Linked DNA regions of Homo sapiens. Each later gene encodes a partner of the first gene's protein in a complex. Each region holds a gene or a part of one and is shown on either strand. Other genes may lie near its edges. The genes, in order: SNRPG, PRPF8, GEMIN4 and GEMIN2.

Evidence for each region.
Region 2: SNRPG (region 1) and PRPF8 share a complex: the UniProt entries of both Homo sapiens proteins name them as parts of the U4/U6-U5 tri-snRNP complex.
Region 3: SNRPG (region 1) and GEMIN4 share a complex: the UniProt entries of both Homo sapiens proteins name them as parts of the SMN-Sm complex.
Region 4: SNRPG (region 1) and GEMIN2 share a complex: the UniProt entries of both Homo sapiens proteins name them as parts of the SMN-Sm complex.

The regions. Positions count from the first base shown.
Region 1 is NC_000002.12:70,280,813-70,283,748, forward strand, and holds the end of SNRPG (small nuclear ribonucleoprotein G), read right to left. Parts: intron 873-2,936; coding exon 822-872; 3' UTR 550-821; downstream 1-549. UniProt on the Homo sapiens protein: Plays a role in pre-mRNA splicing as a core component of the spliceosomal U1, U2, U4 and U5 small nuclear ribonucleoproteins (snRNPs), the building blocks of the spliceosome.
Region 2 is NC_000017.11:1,653,860-1,660,916, forward strand, and holds part of PRPF8 (pre-mRNA-processing-splicing factor 8), read right to left. Parts: intron 6,969-7,057; coding exon 6,839-6,968; intron 6,720-6,838; coding exon 6,573-6,719; intron 6,143-6,572; coding exon 5,982-6,142; intron 5,690-5,981; coding exon 5,498-5,689; intron 4,905-5,497; coding exon 4,667-4,904; intron 4,523-4,666; coding exon 4,394-4,522; intron 2,903-4,393; coding exon 2,789-2,902; intron 2,707-2,788; coding exon 2,533-2,706; intron 1,685-2,532; coding exon 1,491-1,684; intron 158-1,490; coding exon 1-157. UniProt on the Homo sapiens protein: Plays a role in pre-mRNA splicing as core component of precatalytic, catalytic and postcatalytic spliceosomal complexes, both of the predominant U2-type spliceosome and the minor U12-type spliceosome.
Region 3 is NC_000017.11:743,921-749,264, forward strand, and holds the end of GEMIN4 (gem-associated protein 4), read right to left. Parts: intron 4,113-5,344; coding exon 946-4,112; 3' UTR 501-945; downstream 1-500. UniProt on the Homo sapiens protein: The SMN complex catalyzes the assembly of small nuclear ribonucleoproteins (snRNPs), the building blocks of the spliceosome, and thereby plays an important role in the splicing of cellular pre-mRNAs.
Region 4 is NC_000014.9:39,124,311-39,131,367, forward strand, and holds part of GEMIN2 (gem-associated protein 2), read left to right. Parts: intron 1-681; coding exon 682-726; intron 727-3,969; coding exon 3,970-4,038; intron 4,039-7,057. UniProt on the Homo sapiens protein: The SMN complex catalyzes the assembly of small nuclear ribonucleoproteins (snRNPs), the building blocks of the spliceosome, and thereby plays an important role in the splicing of cellular pre-mRNAs.

The DNA.
Region 1 (2,936 bases):
TGTTTGGTGTTTTACAAGAACTTTACCATACTGGTGTGTAGTCCATTCTGTACAGTTTAAAAGTGATTCACGATTTGCAGGCTTTTTATCAGATCACAAAAAAATCAGTCTTTAAGCATTTGCTTGGTAAGGTTTCTTAAGATTAGGTTTATAATACAACCATCTGTAATGTATCTCTCGTTTGAGCTTGTGGGCCATACAATTCATTAACTAGATGAATACATTGTGGACAGCATCCTCACTACCCCTCTCTACTCACTCACAAAGAACCATGATACACTGGAATGTTTTTCTCTGGAATCCTCTTTCTACTCTTGTATTAAAATTTTTCCCCACTTCATGATTATATTCAAAATAAACAACTACATCATTACTTCTTGTCTTTTGCTTCTGTTGTACTATATTTGGAATGTAGATGTACTTGGGAAAGTCAGGCTAGATCAAAGTTACTATTCTTACAAGTTTTGAAAATTAGTGTTTTAGAAGAAACTCACTCATGTTTGTAACTTCTTTATCTGTTCAGTGTTGAAAGATGATGGACAGAAGGAATCCTTGCCATGTTTCACATTTAATAAGATTCTTTCACTTTAATGCATAAAACCCTTTGAAATCAATGTCAACCAGGAAAATTCATGTTAGAAAAAACTGGAATGAGAGCTGATATTCTATATTCAGAACATCTGAGAAAGCATTTTTGACTATTACAAAAGTTTATTTAACAAAAAGTCTAATATGAAAATGTACATGACCTAATTTTTACATCATAGTAAAACAGGCCCTATGGAGAGAGGACATGGGTTTCTCTGCTGAACAGCCATTATTTATACTCGTTCCAAGGCTTCTAACATGATGATACTATTTCCTCGTATTACCTAAGAAAGAGAAAAATAAATTTGAAAAGAACAACTCAGGTAACAGACATAACTATGATGATTTAAGAATTTTCACCAAATCATTAATGGTTTTTTAATATTACATGTCGGTTTGCAAAGCTTTGTTCAAGCCACAGGGACACCAAACAACTCTAAGCCCTTTATACGACAGACATCTTTTGGATTTAAGGCTAACAATTTGCTTTATGAGATTCTAATGCCAAGTCTCCAATGACTAATTTCACCTTTTTTTTTGAGACAGTCTCACTCTGTTGCCCAGGCTAGAGTGTAGTGGCGCAATCTCGGCTCACTGCAGCCTCTGCCACCCAGGTTCAAGCAATCCTGCTTCAGCCTCCCAAGTAGCTAGGATTACAGGAGCCCTGACCACGCCCAGCTAATTTTTATATTTTTGGTAGAGACGGGGTTTCACCATGTTGGCCAGGCTGGTGTCAAACTCCTGACCTCAAGTAATCTGCTTGCCTCAGCCTCACAAAGTGCTGGGATTACAGGCGTGAGCTACTACGCCTGGCCCTAATTTCACCTTCTAAAATGCAGGACTCAAATTTAAATGCCCATCCCTGACTCTATGGGATCCAAAAATTAATGAGTAAAATATGTACAGTAGAGTATGTTAGGTACAGTTTGGAGGTATGAGATCATTTAGGGAAGAAACCAGGATGGGAAATTGTGAAAGGCATGCTTTATGAAAATGACATTTTACCTGGGTCTTGGAAATTGGGCAGAATTTTGAAAAGGAGATTGTAGGAAATTCTAGACAGAACTAAGATGAAGACAAAGTATGAGAGGATAAGGAAGTAATCTAATTTGAATGCAGTAAAAAGTTCACGAAGAGAATCAGGAAACAAAGATAGTTGGCATTCAATCTTGGAAAGCTTCAAATGCCAATCTTAGTGTTTGGAGGACATCAGAAACTAACAATGAGCCAGTGAGAGTTTCACTTGGGGGAATGACAACCATAAGTGTCCCTGCAACAAGATATTATATAAATACGCCGAAGTTTGAATAGGACAGAACCTAGAGGCAGAAAGAGAAGTTATAAAAAAAAGGCCCTAGGAGAACAGTGCTTGACCTAGTAGATAAGCCATAAATGAAGATAAGAATATTTATCGGGGGTGTGGTGGCTCACGCCTATAATCCCAGCACTTTGGGAGGCCAAGGCGGGTGGATCACCTGAGGTTGGGAGTTCGAGACCATCCTGGCCAACATGGAGAAACCCCCATCTCTACTAAAAATAAAAAATTAGCCGGGTGTGGTGGCACATGCCTGTAATCCCAGCTACTCAGGAGGCTGAGGCAGGAGAAATCACTTGAACCCGGGAGGCGGAGGTTGCGGTAAGCCAAGATAGCGCCACTGCACTCCAGCCTGGGCAACGAGCGAAACTGTCTTTTGTCAAAAAAAAAAAAAAAAAAAAAAAAAAAACAACAAACCAAAACCAAAACAAACCAACAGACAAACTTATCAGAGTATAGATGAATCAGCTGGTAAATGAATTCAAGAGGGGTAGAAAAATAAGCGAAACTGGAAGGCTAGGGGACTAAAAACAGTAAGTCCCTAATAGACTGGAGATCATCATAATCGATAGATCACCCATCAGTCAAGTAGAATTGGATAGGTGAATGGAGGGGTACGGGAGGGAAAGAATAGGTAATGTAGGGGAGAGAAAGGTAATGTAATAATTTGAGGTGTTTATTAGAAATGGAGGCATTCCAAAAAGATTCAAAGTGGAGCTATGCTTATAGGCAGCTAGAGTAAAAGTAGTTGTAACTTATTCTTTTCTCACAGTATCATGCTTGTTTTATTTACACATACGCTATGATTTATTGTGTTCTCCATACAAATGTAAATTTTATGAGGGCAGGGACTTAGGTGCAAAACCCCAGTGCCTAAAATAGTAGCAGGCACACAGAGGGCTCAATAACCTGGTAAATATGAATAAAAGAACTCACATGTGATTACTGCAGCTGACAGAATAGAAGGGAACACAATTGGTAGGATAAGTGTCTTGGAACCTGGCAGCCAATTATCAGCAATGAGTATGATAAG
Region 2 (7,057 bases), on another chromosome or scaffold:
GTTGACAGTGCGAGTCTGTGTTGCCGTCAGCTGCGATTGTTCCTTGGTCTGCTTCTCGATCTCAGCGATCTGCTGCCGCTGCTGTGACGGTGCCGAGATCTCCATACCCAGGATGATGTCTCGAATTTCTGATTGTGTCAGTGATGCCACGTTCACACTGTGGGGATGGTGTGGGTTATATTACAAGGATCCCTTCCCCTTGGTCACTTCTGCCTCAATGGAAAGGGTGTAACTTGGTAGGACAGGACAGCCTATACTCACGCCCCAGACAATCCACAAGAGCTGCTTCTACAGGAAGTGTGAAACGGAGGTGCACTAACACTTCCAAGATTCGTCAGATCCAAGCGGGACAGCACACTGCGTGTGCACCTTCCCACTGTTTAGCATCCATAAACCCTACGCTTCCTTGACCAAAACAATGCTCTGGCATGGAACTGTTCTCAGAAATGGAAACCCCAGAAACCCTAGAATACTGGTTCTTAATCAGAGGTGGTATTGTCCGTCACCCTATGGATAATTTTGGTTGCCACGATGACAGGGAGGGAGACGAGGGGAGGAAGGTGTGTGTGTGTGTTGGCAGCAGTCTCGGATACTTAGGGTCTCGGATGTTCAAAATTCTTCCCATGTATGGACAGTAAAGAAATGCCCTGTTTGAAATGGCAACAGTGAGAAACAATGGCCAAGAGTCAGACTGAAGCCCTAAAACAGGGATGCTTCCCATACTATTCGAAGACACTGCTGTATCTCTCTTCCTCGAGACTCTGTAAGATAATTTCTTTCCTTGTTTTCAAGACAAGAGTCTCGCTCTGTTACCCAGGCTGGAGTACAGTGGCATCATCATGGCTCACTGCAGCCTCAAACCCCCGGGCTCAAGCAAGCCTCCTGCCTCAGCCTCCAAGAAGCTGGGACTACAAGCGTGTACCACCACACCTGTTTTAAATTTTTTTTTTTTGGTAGAGATGGCGTCAGTCTCTTGTTGATCAGGCTGGTTTCAACTCCTGGCTCATGCAATCCTCCCACCTTGGCCTCCCAAAGTGCTGGTATTACTAGCATGAGCACTCAAGCCTGGCTAAGACAAGATAATTTCTTGAGAAACGTCTTTTTTTTTTTTTTTTTTGGAGACAGTCTCACTCTTGTCGCCCAGGCTGGAGTGCAGTGGCATGATCTCGGCTCACTGCAACCTCTGCCCCCAGGTTCAAGCAATTCTCCTGCCTCAGCCTCCCGAGTAGCTGGGATTACAGGTAGGCGCCATCGCACCCGGCTAACTTTTGTATTTTTAGTAGAGACGGAGTTTCACCACGTTGGCCAGGATGGTTTCAAACTCCTGACCTCAAATGATCTACCCACCTTGGCCTCCCAAAGTGCTGGGATTACAGGCATGAGCCACCGCGCCTGGCCTTCTTGAGAAACTTCTAAGCCTAAGTGCTTCCAAAAAACCCCAGAAAACCGTATATAGACCTCCTGTCTGTGTCCCCACCAGCACTGCTCACTTGTTTTTCTTGCCGTAGTCAGCCAAGATCAGATCCTTGAGCTGCACCTCGACCTTGATCCATTCTTCGTCAGTCAGAGTGGGCCAGATGTGGTGTGGTTCTGTAATAGTAGTCTTGTCTGGCTTCAGGATCACTTTTGCCCGATCGTTGTTCACATGTAGGGCACGCAGAATCAGGATGAGACGGGAGAAGGCCTGGGAAAAGATTTGGAAGAGTGGGGTAGGTCAGCTGCTTGAGGCTCTCCCACTTTAATCCTAACCTTTCATGAAACCCAAGAATTTTTTTTTTTTCTTTTGAGACAGAGTCTTGCTCTGTCGCCCAGGCTGGAGTGCAGTGGCATGATCTCGGCTCACTGCAAGCTCCGCCTCCCAGGTTCATACCATTCTCCTGCCTCAGCCTCCCGAATAGCTGGGATGACAGGCACCTGCCACCACGCCCGGCTAATTTTTTGTATTTTTAGTAGAGATGGGGTTTCACTGTGTTAGCCAGGATGGTCTCAATCTCCTGACCTCGTGATCCGCCGCCTCGGCCTCCCAAAGTGCTGGGATTACAGGCGTGAGCCACTGCGCCCGGCCTTTTTTTTTTTTTTTTTAGACAGTCTTACTCTGTCGCCCAGGCTGGAGTGCAATGGTGCCATCTCGGCTCACTGCAACCTCTGCCTCCTGGGTTCCAGTGATTCTGGTGCCTCAGCCTCCCGAGTAGCTGGGACTACAGGTGCATCCCAGCACACTCGGCTAATTTTGTTGTATTTTTAGTAGAGATGGGGTCTCGTCATGTTGGCCAGCCTGATCTCAAACTCCTGACCTCAGGTGATTCACCCAACTCAGCCTCCCAAAGTGCTGGGATTACGGGCGTGAGCCACCACGCCCGGCCCCAAGAGTTGATTTTTAACTTTAAGGTCTTAAACTCTCATGAAAGTCAACAGAGTTCCCACCCAATCTATAGGCTAAAAATGTGAAAATGGCAAAAACCTGACACAGGATCTTCTCCTAACCCTAAACCCGCTCCTCCTCCAGCGATCTTCTCTTCCCGAGGTTCATACCGTGTAAGATGAAATAGTCTTGAGCCAGTCGTCATAGAGGTTGAAGAGAACCATCTGGGGCTCAGTGGCTTTAAGGATGAGATCCCCGAATTTTTCCACCTTGAGACACGCCTGGAAAGGGAGTTGGAGCTCCGATCCTTTGATGACAATATTGGGGAAGTCCAGTAAGTGCACCTAAGACAAGATCAAGTCCAAGATGAGAAACAGCCTGAAGGTCTCAAGGTCTCTTTTCTCCTACCCCACCCCACCCTCTTACCTCCAGTGGGTCCAGCATGCCCTTCCTGGTGACAATGATCTGCTTGGGCTGCTCCTCCACAGGCAGAGATCGGATCAGGGCGGCCACCTCCTCAGCTGTCTTCCACTTAGCCAACTTAAAAGCAAGAGAGAAGAAAATGGAAATTTAGTCTCTACCCTCCCAGATCAACTAGAACAGAATATCCTAGTTTTGAAATAATCCAACTACGTTTCTATTGAACACTGATGTTAAATGTTAGGCACTTAGAAGGTACAAAGAGTATCAAATGGCCGTGTCCAATGACCAGGCTGACAGCCCCTTTCAACAAGACAATACCACAAGCTGACACATGAGTATGTGCTAAACTATACACTGTTTTACAGAGTTCAGGAACAAAAGAAATTAAGGCTACTAGGATCAGAAAAAAGCTGCACAAAAAAACGTGTCTTAAGGAGGGACTGTGATTAACAGAGCAAAGAGGGGAGTTCATTCTAGAAAGAAAAATACAAGCAAAACACAGATTTGGAGATGAGCATCAGGGGTTTGGGCTACTAAGATCCTGGACTGAATGTAAGATGAAACATGCTATAAATGTAAAGGAAGAGAAACTGGCTGGACAGATACAGCCCAGCCAGATGTTGAACGTCTAGGAAGCTAAAGAAGAGTTAATTCAGCAAGAGTTGTGAGGTAGAGAAGAGATTTGGTCAAAGTGGATGTTTCAAGAATATGCGTTGCTGGGCCGGGCACGGTGGCTCAAGCCTGTAATCCCAGCACTTTGAGAGGCCAAGGCGGGCGGATCACGAGGTCAGGAGATTGAGACCATCCTGGCCAACATGGTGAAACCCCGTCTCTACTAAAAATACAAAAAATTTAGCCGGGCGTGGTGGCGGGCACCTGTAGTCCCAGCTACTCGGGAGGCTGAGGCAGGAGAATGGCGTGAACCTGGGAGGCGGAGCTTGCAGTGAGCTGAAATCAGGCCACTGCATTCCAGCCTGGGCAACAGAGCAAGACTCCGTCTCAAAAAAAAAAAAAAAAAAAGAGAATATGCATTGCTGGCCAGGAGCAGTGGCTCACACCTGTAATCCGAGCACTTTGGGAGGCAGAGGCAGAGGCAGGCAGATCACAAAGTCAGGAGATCGAGACCATCCTGGCTAACACGTTGAAACCCTGTCTCTACTAAAAAATACAAAAAAAATTAGCCAGGCGTGGTGGCGGGCGCCTGTAGTCCCAGCTACTCGGGAGGCTAAGGCAGGAGAATGGCGTGAACCCGGGAGGCGGAGCTTGCAGTGAACCGAGATTGAGCCACTGTGCTCCAGCCTGGGCCACACAGCGAGACTCCGGCTAAAAAAAAAAAAAAAAAAAAAGAGTATGCGTTGCCTTTGGAAAAATGATTTTTGATAGCCCTGTTCAAGGTTAGAAATTCAGGAAACAGACCAGCTGGAAGGGAACGAAGCACCTCATACACTCTTGGACCTCCCACAGAATACTTCCCAAGGTATTTTGGGGATAAGTTCAAATGAGATGTTCTCAGCCTTTCATCTAATAAACCAGTAAATATTACCAAGTCCACCCCAAGAATAAGAGGCAACATGGTTCTACAGCCTCTTCATCTTTAAACCTGCTCACCTGCCCCAAACGCTTCTGTCCCGCCCACACGGACGTGTGGATTATCTTGAGGAACAGCTGCCCTGTGCGTGGGTTGAAGATGAAGATGGCTCCGTTGATGGGCTTGGTTGTCAAGTTCCCTTCAAAGGTCTAGAGGAGGACGGCATTCGTTAGCATGGCCTACACAACACATCCCCATCCTGCCTTCTTCCCAGCATGTGTACACACTTAGCCCATTACTCTCCCACAGCCATGTACAGAGTCCCGCACCTATACACTGCTGCTAACACTCACCTTGTGAATAGTCACTCTGTAGACGTTGGTGTCATCCACAAACCAGATAATCTGGTTGGAGAAGAGCTCACCATAGTTCTGAGAAGACAAATAAGGCTCAGTGGGTTCAGATGAATAGAGCTGTAGCCCCTTGCGGATCCGTTCACGTAACACATACAGGGCAGGGTTTGCCTTCATGATCTTGGCCATGGCCTGTTGTATGAGAGGCTTGCTGCCTGGGAACCAGTTTCCATAGGCACTGTGAGGATAAAAGGGTCAAGAAAAGTTAAGACGAGAATGACAGCCCCAGAAACAAGACAAGCTGCCAACTCTACAGAGGAAGAAAGACTGTTCGCCAGGCTGACAACACTCTGCTCATGTGTACATACAGGCTGGAGAAGAGAATCAGTGACCCATAGGAGGAATGGGCCACTTCCTCTCACTTAGGTAAAGTAAAAAAGTATGACTACGTTAAAGTATGGAGCTAATGGAAAATACACGGATTATTTATTTATTTATTATTATTATTATTTTTCTTTGAGATGGAGTCTCACTCTGTCGCCCAGGCTGGAGTGCAGTGGCGCAATCTCGGTTCACTGCAAGCTCCGCCTCCCGGGTTCAAGTAATTCTCCCACCTCAACCTTCTGAGTAGCTGGGACTACAGGCGTGGACCACCACGCCCAGCTAATTTTTTGTATTTTGGTAGAGACAGGGTTTCACCATGTTGCCCAGACTGGTCTCAAACTCCTGAGCTCAGACAATCTGCCCACCGCGGCCTCCCAAAGTGCTGGGATTACAGGTGTGAGCCACTGCGCCTGGCCTGAAAATACATGGTCCTGAGCCTCAACTCACCTGTGCAAGTTATAGGCCAGGTCAATGGCGATGAGTACACCTGTGGGCGAAGGGTAGATACTCATGTTGTCGGTGGTGTAGTCCAGGAACTTGGCCCGGGCGTAGCGCTCAATGTCGTGGGAATCATAGTCCCCCCAGCGCAACTGGATGTCAATCCAGTATTTCTGGGTGGTGGTGCTGTCCATCACATCCCTGAGGATGAAGAGGGTTCAAGCTTCTAAGAAACCATGGGCATAACCAATGTCCCCAGAACCAGAACCACTTAAATCCCAAAACCATCCCACCCACTCCACCAACTTGTTCCAGGTCAGCAGGACCCCAGAGAATCAGCAGATCTGACTAAGGGTGTTGACAGGCTCCAAGCGTAGCACTGGCTCCAAGTTTGAAACAAAGGCAGACAGGACAATTCCTAAAGTTGCAGGGCTAGAAGAACAGGAAAACGAAAGTGTCCTGGCTGCCTAGGGCTGGGTCCTGAGGCACTTACTTGGAGTCAGCCAGCAATGAGGGCCGGGAGACATTCCACTTATAGGAGGCAAAGAGCAGGATATCTGCACAGGAAGAGTTCATCTTATATGACTTTCGGGGATGGATTGTCTCCTTTTGTACTGTCTCAATTTCCAGTGCATCAAGTTCCTGGTCAAACACCTGAAGGAAAACATGGAGAGATTAAGACTTGTTAAGGAAGCCCAATTAAAATCAGAGTTTGTACAATAAGATAATGAGGCAATAGGAGTCTCATCCTCAGAGCTTCCAGGGTGGATTTCCCATATGCAAAAGAGCAAGCTGAGCTGACTCTGTACAGCACGCTCTCCCCGCGATTCCACCTGAGCTGACTCTGTACAGCACCCTCTCCCCGCGATTCCACCTAAGCTGACTCTGTACAGCACCCTCTCCCTGCGATTCCACCTGAGCTGACTCTCTACAGTACCCTCTCCCCACGATTCCACCTGAGCTGACTCTGTACAGTACCCTCTCCCCTCGATTCCACCTGAGCTGACTCTGTACAGTACCCTCTCCCCTCAATTCCACCTGAGCTGACTCTCTACAGTACCCTCTCCCCTCGATTCCAGCCCACCTGACATAAGTCCATAACAATGCTCTCATGGATCTTCTGCCACAAGTGAGCTCGGAAGATCTGGATGAGAGAGATCTTCAGCGTGGGGATCTTGCCGTGCATGAAGATACCCGTCAGGTCTAGCTGCACCTGAAAGCCTACATATACCTGCCAGGAAAACGACAATGTGACATTAGAGATCAAGAGACTCGGGCGCTCACGACATAACCAAGGCAAGAAGCAGCAACTGTCTTTAGCTTCCCCTCTCCAGTGTCAATCACACTCACATTGGCTCGATTAATGGTCGGGGACCACCAGAGGGTGAATCTACGATTGGGAATCTGGTTCAGTCCTGATCGCTGAGCATTAGTTAGCTTCTTCCACTTCATAGATTCCTCAAAGCCACTGGCCTTCTCCCTGGGGAGCAAGAGAAGCAGGTGAGGTGATATCCTGCCATTTCCCAGCACACTGCTAACCTCCTGGAGGTGGCTGTCTGGGAAACACCA
Region 3 (5,344 bases), on another chromosome or scaffold:
ATCATTCCCTTATCCAAACCATTCATTCATCCAAATCTTGACAACCCCTCCTGAGGCAAAAGCTAACGTGACCCATCCATTCAGCACATCTCTGCTGGGTTTGCCAGGTCTCGTCTTCACAGTAGCCCCTTTGGGGGTGACTGAATAGATGGAGTTAAGACTGTATGGGAAGTGGGTGTGCTTATTGTCCCAGCTACTCAGGAGGCTGAGGTGGGAGGATCACTTGAGTCCAGGGGTTCAAGGCTAGTCTGAGCAACAAAGACTGTACACACTCCTCAATTCAGAGGGGACCCATTTTCTTGAGGTCACTAACCTAGCCCCTCGCCACTGAGTTTATCTTGGTCCTCCAATCCTCTCATTTTAGAATTGTGCAGGCCTCTCGGGCACAGCAGTCTCATGGCCAGAGGCAGAGCCAGGGCTGGACTGGATTCTTTTCCAAGCTGCTGTCCTTTCCAAGATACCTCAAGAAAAAAACATTAAAAGACGAAATAACTCTTGAAGGGGGTTATACGTACCATGTAATGCTTTTTCCACTCACATGGTTTCAACTTTGGGCTTATTTGCCAAAATCTAGGATGGAAAAGTCCAGTTATGAACATGTTCCTCCTGGCTGGATTTGATCTTGAAGACACTAAACCCAATTTCAGAGCATATTTAATCCTGGGCTATTGCTGAGGCCGACTTAGAAGAGACAAAGTGAGATGCGAAAGAGGAGAATTTTTATGATAGTTTGTACGTTACAAATACCCAAGAAACTATTTTCTTTACACCATTATTGCCATGACTTTTTGTGGACAGTTTCACATAACTGTAAAGTCCAGGCTGCTCGGGTCTGACCCCTACAGACCTGCCATGTTGAAGCCCAGCTTTTTCGCTCCCGCACAGGTAAGAAGCTGCTGATCTTCTGCAGACCCGCCATGTTGGGGCCCAGCTCCCCACGCCAAGTCAGAAGCTGCTCATCTTCTGCAACAGGGTTTGGCGCCGTTCTTCAGGGCCGATGCCCTCAGCAATGGACTTTAAGAAGCGCTGCTCGTGTGCCCTCTGGAGCAAGGAGCTGACAGAAGGGTTGGTCTTGCTCAAAGTCTCATAGCAGGTGAGGGTTTCCAAGGCTAAAACGTAGAGTGGCTCACAGACCTCCGGGTGGAGCATGGCCATGATGTGCAGAGCATGGCAGAACACCTGGGTGTAAACAAACAGGGCTTCCTGGGTCAGGTCCTGCTCTGGTCCTTGAACCCAAGGGCCAGCTGCCTGTATCGCCCTGACTGAGTCCAGGAGGCGGGTCAGACTGCCACAGAGGAGTTTGACCACGTGGTTCCAGCCTTCCAGAGGAAGCCAATCACGACAGCTATGGCTGCAGAGAAACTGGAAAGTCCTCAGGAAGAGGACGGAGAGTTGCAACTCCTGGGCAAAGGGCTTCAGGTTGAGCAGGGGAACAAACTGAATATATTCCAGGCTATAAGGGACATGGAGGAGCTGCTTCTCCAGCAGTCTCCTGGTCAGCTGGTGAAGGCGCTGCCACTCCTGAGGGCTGCACCAAGGCATGACTTGCACCAGGGCCACCAGAAAGCCTTTGCTGAACAGTCTGACCTCCTCAGGATTGCCCACGTCCACCACCAAGAGAGACAGCATCCTCTCCGAGATGCCGCTGGAGACGCAGCAGCACTCCATCCAGGCCAGGAGCCCCGTGCCAGCCCCGTACCCTGGGTGGGCCTGGGAGGTCCACTCGTCTTCTGAAAGCTTACAGATCTCAAAAAGTGTGGCTGGCACTTCACACTTGAAGTGCCCCTCGAAGAAGCTCTTCAGCCTCAGGCCCACAGTCCAGTCTAGCTGTTCTAACTTGCGGTGGAGCCAGGACAGGGACTTGATCCAGACATCCGGGGAGAAGGTCTCAGCATTGGCTGATACAATCTCACACAGGAGCTCCAGGATATGGATCGCTAGATCCTTCCTATCCAAAGAGAGGCACCGCTTCTCCTTGGGAAGCTGCCAGTATTTGCTGAAGCGGTCCAAGAGCTGGCACAAGCTGAAGAGGAGTGGAAACGGGGAGCAGGTCTGGAGCCAGTATTCCTCTCGGCACGCGTTTGCCTCTAGAGTCTGGATGAAGATCCTCAGACTGAGGTCTACCTCTTCAACATCTAACCTCAAGAAAGGCAGGACAAATTCCTTCAGCACCTCGTCTGGCTCAAGAAGAGCAGCCACTGGAATCCCTTGGGGTTTCACGGGACTCATCAGGCAGTTCAGGAGCTCTAAAAATTGCTTTTCTTCCTTGGGTGTAGAGAACTTCATCCAGACGGTTTCTTTGAGGCATGACACCATGAAAGTGGCAGATGAATTGGGACCCTGCTCTTCCACAAACCTAAGGGCAGGGAAGGCAGTGAGAATCTGGGCCAGGAACTTGTGGGTGCCGAGATTGACCACAGCCAGGCTGCACATTTTCTTCACCGTGACTTCCGGGTGCACTATGACCAGGCGGGCCACGGAGGCCACAGCTTTTGCCAAGCCCTGTTCGGAGGCACTCTGAGTGAGCTGGTTAAAAGTTGTATTGAGGTCTTCCTGAAAACCCTCCACATAAGCCAGCAACTTTTCAGAGAGGCCCTTTCGCCCCCAGGAACGCAGGATACCTGCAAGGACTTTATTTTTACCTGGCAGGGAGAGGTCTGCGTAACATTCCAGGATCAGGTGGATCACCTGCCGGATCTGAGACTCAGGGATGGCTCTGTCAGCTGTGCTGACGTCTATCACTGTTTCCAGCAGCCTCAACACCAAGTCTGGCTGTCGGAAGAGGGCCCTGTTACTCCCCAGGCAGGCTACCCACTCGTCCGAGAAGGCCCACTTCTTCTCAGAGGCAAAAATGTAGCACACTTCCATATGGCGGTCCATCTTCTGCTGGATGACGGCCATGGCAATGGAAGCTGTGATATCCTCCAAGGCCCTGTTCTTCAGCACCGTGCTCGTTTTCCTCAGGAAGTCCCTGACACACTCCGCCAGCTCAGAGACCACCTGCCTGTCCTCCTTGGACAGGCTGGTGCGGTTCAGGTAGAGCGTCGCGTTCTGGCTGAAGGAAGTCAGACTGTCGCACAGCCGGTAGCTGTCGTAACTTGTCCCCTGGCTGCTGCGGAGCACGGCCTGCAACTCCTCCCCCCACTCCCGCAGCAGGTGGTGCAGGAACTCGCAGCCCACGAAAATGGTCTCACTGGGGAGTTTGGCCAGCGAGGTCAGGCTGACATCCCGTTCTGCCTCCTTCACCTTCTCTGCCAGCGCCTGCTGGTGGTAGGGATTCTGGGTGTCCGAGTTCCACACAGAGATCACCGTGGCCAGTTTGTCCAGATACACGGTTGCAGACACCTCCTGGGGGTCGTCCTCTGTCAGCGCAAACACAGTCAGCATGTCAGCCAGGTTGGCCAGCGCACAGCACTTCCTCCCCGGGCCCAGGATCCGACTCTGGATCTGTGTCAGCCCGCGGAGCAGCATGGCCAACAGGGGCATGGTGGGGCACGCGTCTGGGTCTGACCTAAGCCTCTTTGGAGGATGGGGGAACTCATCTAAGGCAGGCAGGTACTTATGGGCCATTGCACTAAACTGGGAGAGCAGGGGGTCCTGCGGGTGACCCTTGTGCTTCATCACCTCCCACCAGACGTCCAGGAAGAAGGCCACGTCTTCGGCAGAAGTGTCAACGGTCACATGTTCCAGAAAGCGCTCTAGTTCTGCATGGCAGATGGTGGTGGGCAGGGCCATCAGGAGCTGGATAAAGAGTCCAGAAGCTTCCAGGGATTTGAGCAGCTCGAAGAGGATGGTGTGGTTGATGGTGGGGATCATGTTGCCCACCGAGAAGAACAGGTCTTCCTGCCACCGTGTCTCTGTGTCGGACGGGGTCACGGGGTGCGGCTGCAGAACCTTGGCCCAGATGATGATCAGGGCTTTCTTCTTCCAGGCAAAGGGCTGGGAGTGTGCTGCAGCCGAGGAGATCTCCCTTAAGGCCTCCACGATGGGCCGTCCAACACGTTCCCAGTCAGACTTTGTTAATTCTGCCAGTGCCTTAGGGTGGAACAGCTGCTCGGCCAGCAAGAAGCCTCCATGCAGAATAGTCATTTCTTCACAGATGTTCAAGGGTCCTGCACACAGACAAGCCAAATAAGACAGTATAGTGAAAATGTTTCCAGATGGCCACTGCTGTTAGTAGGCTGTCATGGTTTGAGATGACAAGGGTTTTAAAGGACATCAGCGGACGGGGAGAAGGGATGACTACAAGAGCCACTGCACAGCTGGAGTCAGAAGGACTTGGCCGAGGAATCCAGAATGGCTTCCGAGCTCTCCAGCCTGGGAACTGGGAGGCCACCAGGTGACATCACATACAGGGAATGGAGGAGAATCAGAGCAGGTGTGAGGAAAGATGAGTTCAGCTTTGGCCATCAAGGTACAGATGTCCTCCAGCAACGGAAATGCCAGGTGGAAGTTCAGGAGGGAAGTAAGCTGGGAAATGTGATTCTGAGAGGTATCTGCCCAGAGGGGATCACCGGAACCAAGACGGTGAATGAGATCCTTCAGGAAAAGTGTGTGAAAAGAAAAAGCTGGGCTGCTGAGGCGAGACCCTCCAGCAAAGGCTGGGCCAGCAGAGGATGTGGGGAGAGGGGTTTAGAAATAGGAGGACAGTACAAACTACAGGGGCCACTGAGCATGTACCACAGGACATGACAGCTGAGCTTCTCATGACAGATGAAGGGAGCATAGCCACAGGGTAATGGGCACAGAGCAATCACACAGCCACAGGGTAACAGGCACAGCAGCAATCACACGGCCACAGGATAATGGGCACAGAGCAATCACACAGCCACAGGGTAATGGGCACAGAGCAATCACACAGCCACAGGGTAATGGGCACAGCAGCAATCACACAGCCACAGGATAATGGGCACAGCAGCAATCACACAGCCACAGGGTAATGGGCACAGAAGCAATCACACGGCTACAGGATAATGGGCACAGAGCAATCACACAGCCACAGGATAATGGGCACAGAGCAATCACACGGCCACAGGATAATGGGCACAGAGCAATCACACGGCCACAGGGTAATGGGCACAGCAGCAATCACACGGCCACAGGGTAATGGGCACAGAGCAATCACACGGCCACAGGATAATGGGCACAGAGCAATCACACGGCCACAGGATAATGGGCACAGAGCAATCACACGGCCACAGGATAATGGGCACAGAGCAATCACACGGCCACAGGGTAATGGGCACAGAGCAATCACACGGCCACAGGGTAATGGGCACAGAGCAATCACACGGCCACAGGATAATGGGCACAGAGCAATCACACGGCCACAGGGTAATGGGCA
Region 4 (7,057 bases), on another chromosome or scaffold:
CTTTAGCTGAAGATTTTGAAATGGTGTATACAACATATTAATGTCATCTTATCAATGTTACAGTTTTATTGGATATACTTAATAAGTTAGTTTTTTCAAGTACTATCATGTAAAAAATTTTTAGTCTTTAACATTTTACTTACTAAAATCATACTTTATTTAAAAATTTACAAATTCAGACCAGGTGAGGTGGCTCATGCCTGTAATCACAGCACTTTGGGAGGCTCTGGCAGGTAGATCACTTGAGCTCAGGAGTTCCAGACCAACCTGGGCAACATGGCAAAACCTCATCTCTACCAAAAATACAAAAAAATTAGCTGGGCGTGTTGACATGCACCTGTGGTCCTAGCTACTCGTGAGGCTGAGGTGGGAGCATCACCTGAGCCCAGGAAGCAGAGGTTGCAGTGAGCCAAGATCGCGCCACTACACTCCAGCCTGGGTGACAGAGTGAGACCCCATCTAAAAAAAAAATTACATATTCAAAATTTAAGGCGTTATTTTCTTCCGCATTACAAACATAGTAGTTTCCGGAATGTCTCATTGTTATGGACAATGAAAGAATTTTCTTTTATTTGTTCTTTGTTTCTAAACAACAGTGTGGCAAGAAATTCACCAGTTTGAAAAAAAAAAATGAAGCTTATAATACCATTTAGTAAAATTCAGTCTCATTTTTTCTTTCAGATTGGTTTTCCTCCCTTGCTTAGTATTGTTAGCAGAATGAATCAGGTAAAATTAATAATAGAGATATATGCATTCTTTTGTTTGCATTGTGTGTGAAAGTATTTGAATTGTTAATACATATACTGAATTCTTACAGTATGCAAGACTTTGTCCTAAGCTCTTTAATGGTTCTTATTTAATCCTTACTACAACCCTCTATGGAGAGTTATTATTGATAACTACTTTTTATAGATGAGGAAACAGCATTTGAGGTTAAGTAACTTGCAGGTGGTTTTTCAGCAAGTAAATGGCAGTACTGAGATTCAGTGCCAGGTAGATCTAACTCCAGAGCTCATGCTCTGTCTTAATCATGGTGCTAGAGTATTCATTTCTGTAGCTTTCAGTTATAAGTCTTAGATTCTGGGGTTTGAATTAAATACAAGGTCCCTGACTTACAATGGTTCAGTTTAGGATTCCTTTTTTCCCACCATGCCTGGCTAATTTTTGTATTTTCAGTAGAGAGAGGATTTTGTCATGTTGGCCACGTTGGTCTCGAACTCCTGGCCTCAACTGATCCACCCACCTTGGCCTCCCAAAGTGCTGGAATTACAGGCATGAGCCACCATGCCCAGCCATTTTAGGAATTTTCAACTTTACAATGTGTTTATCAGCACATAACCCCATTGCAAGTTCAGGGGCATCTGTACTAAGGTTAGATTGCTATTTCTAGTTCTAGATGTCCTATACATTCTATTAAGATTGAAATATGGGCCGGGCGCGGTGGCTTATGCCTGTAATCCCGGCACTTTGGGAGGTCAAGGCAGGTGGATCACAAGGTCAGGAGTTCGAGACCAGCCTGGCCAACATGGTAAAACCCCATCTCTACTAAAAATACAAAAATTAGCTGGATGTGGAGGTGTGCACTTGTAATCCCAGCTATTTGGGAGGCTGAGGCAGGAGAATCGCTTGAACCTGGGAGGCAGAGGTTGCAGTGAGCCGAGATCGTGCCATTGCACTCCAGCCTGGGCGACAGGGCGAGACTCTGTCTCAAAAAAAAAAAAAAGAAAGATTGAAATATATGATTTCTTGGATCAAAAGGGAAGAATTATGGAGTTTGGTTCTTCAGTTTTTTAGGAGTAAGGACTCTTATTCATTTAAAAAGCAAATAAAAATTTAATTTTATCTTCACATAGCATTGGGTACCTTTGGAAGCCTTTTTTTTTTTTTTTGGCAGGGTCTCATTCTCTTGCCCATGCTGGAGTACAGTGATGTGATCTTGGCTCACTGCAGTCTTGTACTTTGGGGCTCAGGCAATCCTCCCACCTCAGCCTCCTGGTAGCTGGGACCACAGGCATGTGCTACCATGCCTGGCTAATTTTGTTTATTTTTGGTAGAGACAAGGTCTCACTGTGTTGTCCAGGCTGGTCTGGAACTCCTGAGCTCAAGCGATCCTCCCACCTCAGCCTCCCAAAGTGCTGGGAATACAGGTGTGAACCACTGGGCCCAGCCAACAATTTTTTTTGTGGGTGATATTCTCTTGGAAATAATACACAAGCTGACAGTGTTACTTAATCATTTGCATTAAGATATTGTAGCAGTCATACTAAATTCCATCAGTGTCATTTTTGTTGTAACCATCAACTGTATTTGAATAAACCAGAGATTATTTTCAAGAGTTTGATAAATCCATCTGTATAGTTTAAGAACAGATTTTTCTCCACCTAAATTTTTATTCAGATTTGTACTTTGATTTAATTTGAATTTAGAAATAAACTGATGGTTTTTTTGTTTTGTTTTGTTTTGTTTTGTTTTTTGAGAGGGAGTCTCGCTCTGTCGCCAGGCTGGAGTGCAGTGGCACAATCTTGGCTCACTGCAACCTCCACCTCCCAGGTTCAAGCAATTCCCCTGCCTCAGCCTCCCTAGTAGCTAGGACTACAGGCGCACACCATCACACCCAGCTAATTTTTTGTATTTTAGCAGGGATGGGGTTTACCGTGTTGGCCAGGATGGTCTTTGTCTCCCGACCTTGTGATCCACCCGCCTCAGCCTCCCAAAGTGCTGGGATTATAGGCATGAGCCCACCGCGCCTGGCCAACTGATGGTATTTTTACAAATACATCTTTTTTTTTTTTTTTTTTTGAGACAGAGTTTCGCCTTTTGCCCAGGCTGTACTGAAGCGGCAGGATCTCAGCTCACTGCAACCTCTGCCTCCTGGGTTCAAGCAGTTCTCCTGTCTCAGCCTCCCGAGTAGCTAGGATTACAGACCCCGCCACCATGCCTGGCTAATTTTTGTATTTTTAGTAGAGACGGGGTTTTGCCGTGTTGGCCAGGCTGGTCTCAAACTCCTGACCTCAGGTGTGCCATTGTTTTTTTTTTTTTTTTTTTTTTTTGAGACAGAGTCTCACTCTGTTGCCCAGGCTGGAGTGCAGTGGCAAAATCCTGGCTCACTGCAACCTCTGCCTCCCAGGTTCAAGGGATTCCCCGGCCTCAGCCTCCCTAGTAGCTGGGACTGCATTCACTCACCACCATGCCCGGCTAATTTTTGTATTTTTAGTAGAGATGGGGTTTCACCATGTTGGCCTGGCTGGTCTCAAACTGACATCAAGTGATCCACCTGCCTCGGCCTCCCAAAGTGCTGAGATTACTGGCAAGAGCCACTGAGCCTGGCCACAAATACATTTTCTTTTAACCTTGTGAAGTCTTTCAAGTAGTTACAAACTAAATTATTAATAGTTACAAACTAAATCCTAGGATTTAAACCAAGGTGTTAGTTGATATTTGAAAGTGTGAAAATATTTGTTTTAAAAGCCTCACTGGGGCTAGGCGCGGTGCCTCACACCTGTGATCGCAGCACTTTGGGAGGCCGAGGAGGGCGGATCACCTGAGGTCGAGAGTTCGACCAGCCTGACCAACATGCAGAAACCCTGTCTCTACTAAAAATACAAAAATTAGCCGGACGTGGTGGTGCACGCATGTAATCTCAGCTACTCAGGGGGCTGAGGCAGGAGAATTGCTTGAACCCGGGAGGCGGAGGTTGCAGTGAGCCAAGATCGCACCAGTGCGCTCCAGCCTGGGCAACAGAGTGAGACTCTATCTCAAAAAAAAAAAAAAAAAAAAAAAAAAGCCTCATTGGATAAGCCGCCTAATCAAACTAATTAGAGTCAAACAAATTAGCTTTCTTTGAAAGTTTAAAGAATGAGGCCATTTTTAACATCAGAGTTGCTTTCTAAATAAACTTAATGAAACTCATGTTGAATTCATGTTTTATTATTAATACAACTCTTCTCCACCCCCTCTTTTTTTTTTTAGGCAACAGTAACTAGTGTCTTGGAATATCTGAGTAATTGGTTTGGAGAAAGAGACTTTACTCCAGAATTGGTAGTATTGCATGTTTTTCTTTTCATAATGTAGGCAAAAATTAGACGTTTTGGGTCAACTGTGGGCCACATATACAATGGTGCTCCTATAGGATTATAATACTGTATTTTTACTGCACATTTTCTTTTTTTCTTTTCTTTTTTTTTTTTTTTTTTTTTTTGAGACAAGGTCTCGCTCTGTTACCCAGGCTGGGGTGCAGTATTACAATCATAGCTCACTGCAACCTTGATCTCCCCAGCTCAAGCAATCCTCCTGCCTCAATCTCCTGAGTAGCTGGGACTACAGGCGCATGCAGCCACGCCCAGTTTTTTTTGTTTTTTGTTTTTTGTTTTTTTTATTAGAGACAAGGTCTCACTGTGTTGTCCAGGCTGGTCTTGAACTGAGTCCAAATGATCCTGCCTCCTCACCCTCCCAAAATGCTGGGAATTACAGGCATGAGCCACCATGTGTGCGGCCTTTTGTGTTTTTTAAATAGAGACGAGGTCTCACCATGTTCCCCAGGCTGATCTCAGACTCCTAGGCTCAAGTGTTCTTCCCACCTTGGCCTCCCAAACTGTTTGGATTACAAGCATGAGCCACTGAGCCCGGCTCCTTTCCAGTATTTAAATATGTTTAGATCTGGCCAGGCACAGTGGCTCATGCCTGTAATCCCAACTACTAGGGAGGGCTGAGGCAGGAGGATCACCTAAGGCCAGGGAGGTTGAGGCTGCAGTGAGCCATGATTGTGCCACTGCACTGCACTCTAGCCTGAGTGACAGAGTGAGACCCTATCTTAAGAAATAAATATATGGTTTTTTTGGATGCACAAATGTTTACCATTATGTTACAGTTGCCTACAGTATTCAGTATAGTAATGTGCTATATAGGTTTGTAGCCTAGGAGCAATTGGCTATGCAATATAGTCTAGGTATAGTAGACTATACCATCTAGGTTTGTGTAAGTATACTCTATGATGTTCATCCAGGGTCAAAAATCACCTAACAATGCATTTCTCAGAATATATCTCCCTTCATTAAGTGATGCATGACTGTACTTGATGTGATGCTACGGTATTTATTTATTTTTTATTTATTTGTTTGTTTTGACATGGAATCTCCCTCTGTTGCCCAGGCTGGAGTGCAGTAGCGCGATCTCGGCTCACTGCAGCCTCCACCTCCTGGTTTCAAGTGATTCTCCTGCCTCAGCCTCCCAAGTAGCTGGGATTACAGGCACCTGCCACCACACCCAGCTAATTTTTGTATTTTTGTAGAGACAGGCTTTCTCCATGTTGGCCAGACTGGTCTTGAACTCATGACCTCAGGTGATCTGCCCGCCTCCACCTCTCAAAGTGTTGGAATTACAGGCGTGAGCCACTGCACCCAGCCAGTATTTATATTTATATTTATATTTGTATATGTGTGTGTGTGTGTATATACATATGTATAATCTGAACTATACTTGTTTGTAGTCAAATAAGAAACACTAGAATGTAAATCAACATACTACTTCCTTCATTGAGAAAGTCTTGGAGAAAAAAAGTCAATGAAAGAGTTGATGTATATCCTGGTACAAGGTACAAACTCCTTATCTCATTGCAGACAAGTTTGTTTTTTTTTTTTTTTTTTTTTTTTGAGATGGAGTCTCACTCTGTCACCCAGGCTGCAGTGCAGTGGTGCCATCTCGGCTCACTGCAACCTCTGCCTCCCAAGTTCAAGCAATCCTCCTGCCTCAGCCTCCTGAGTAGCTGGGACAAGTGTAGAGAATATTTAATTTAAATTAAATATTTAATTTAAATGCTAGCTTTACATAGTAAATGTATCCCTTAAAATTTGAGTCAAGTTGAAACATATAATTTTTTTTTATAGAAAAAGAATTCCACAATTTGTAAAAGAAACCTGGATTTGAATCTTTTTCTGTAAGAAAAAGTCTTAACTATTGATTTGAGTTTGCCTGAGGAACCCATTTAGTGTGTTGTATAAATTGCTATTTAAATTTTGTCCTAATATTTTTTAGGTTTCCCCGAAGTGATATGTTGCTTAGAATAAACAAAGTTGTATATACTACTGGTGGAAATACAAATTTGGTATAACCTTTCCAGGATACAATCTGGTGATCATATCTGAAAAACCTTGATGAATATACATACCCTTTGTCACCATTTTACTTGCAATACTTAATAAACTTTCCCCATGTTGTTAAATGAGATTAAACAAGGGAATGTTATTAAATACTCTAAACAAGACACTTAACATTCCCTTGTTAATCCCATTTAACTACAAGGGATGGCTGAGTGGGGTGGCTCACTCCTGTAATCCCAGCACTTAGGGAGGCCGAGGTGGGCGGATCACTTGAGGTCAGGAGTTCGACACCAGCCTGGCCAACATGGTGAAACCCCCATCTCTACTAAAAATACAAAAATTAGCTGAGCATGGTGGCGGGCGCCTGTTGTCCCAGCTACTCAGGAGGCTGAGGCAGGAGGATTGCTTGAACCTGGGAGGCAGAGGTTGCAGTGAGCCGAGATGGCACCACTGCACTCCAGCCTGGATGACAGAACGAGACTCCATCTCGAAAAAAAAAAGAAAAAGGACAAAAACAACATGGTAAACATTTTATTATGTATTATAAATAAAAAAGATGGCTACAAGATGATATTACAACTGATGAAATTGTATTGAAAAAAGGTTGTACAGCCGGGCATGGTGGCTCACGCCTGTAATCTCACCACTTTGGGAGGCTAAGGCAGGCAGATCACTTGAGGTCAGGAGTTCGAGACCAGCCTGAACAACATGGTGAAACCCGGTCTCTATTAAAAATACAAAATTAGCCGGGTGTGGTGGTACATGCCTGTAATTCCAGGTACTCAGGATGCTGAGACAGGAGAATTGCTTGAACCCGGGAGGCAGAGGTTGCAGTGAGCCGAGATCGCGCCATTGCACTCCAGCCTGGGCAACAAGAGTGAAACTCTGTCTCAAAAAAAAAGAAAGTTGTACATACGAATAGGAAAAACAAGAACATTTTTAAAGTGAATCAAAGTTTGATC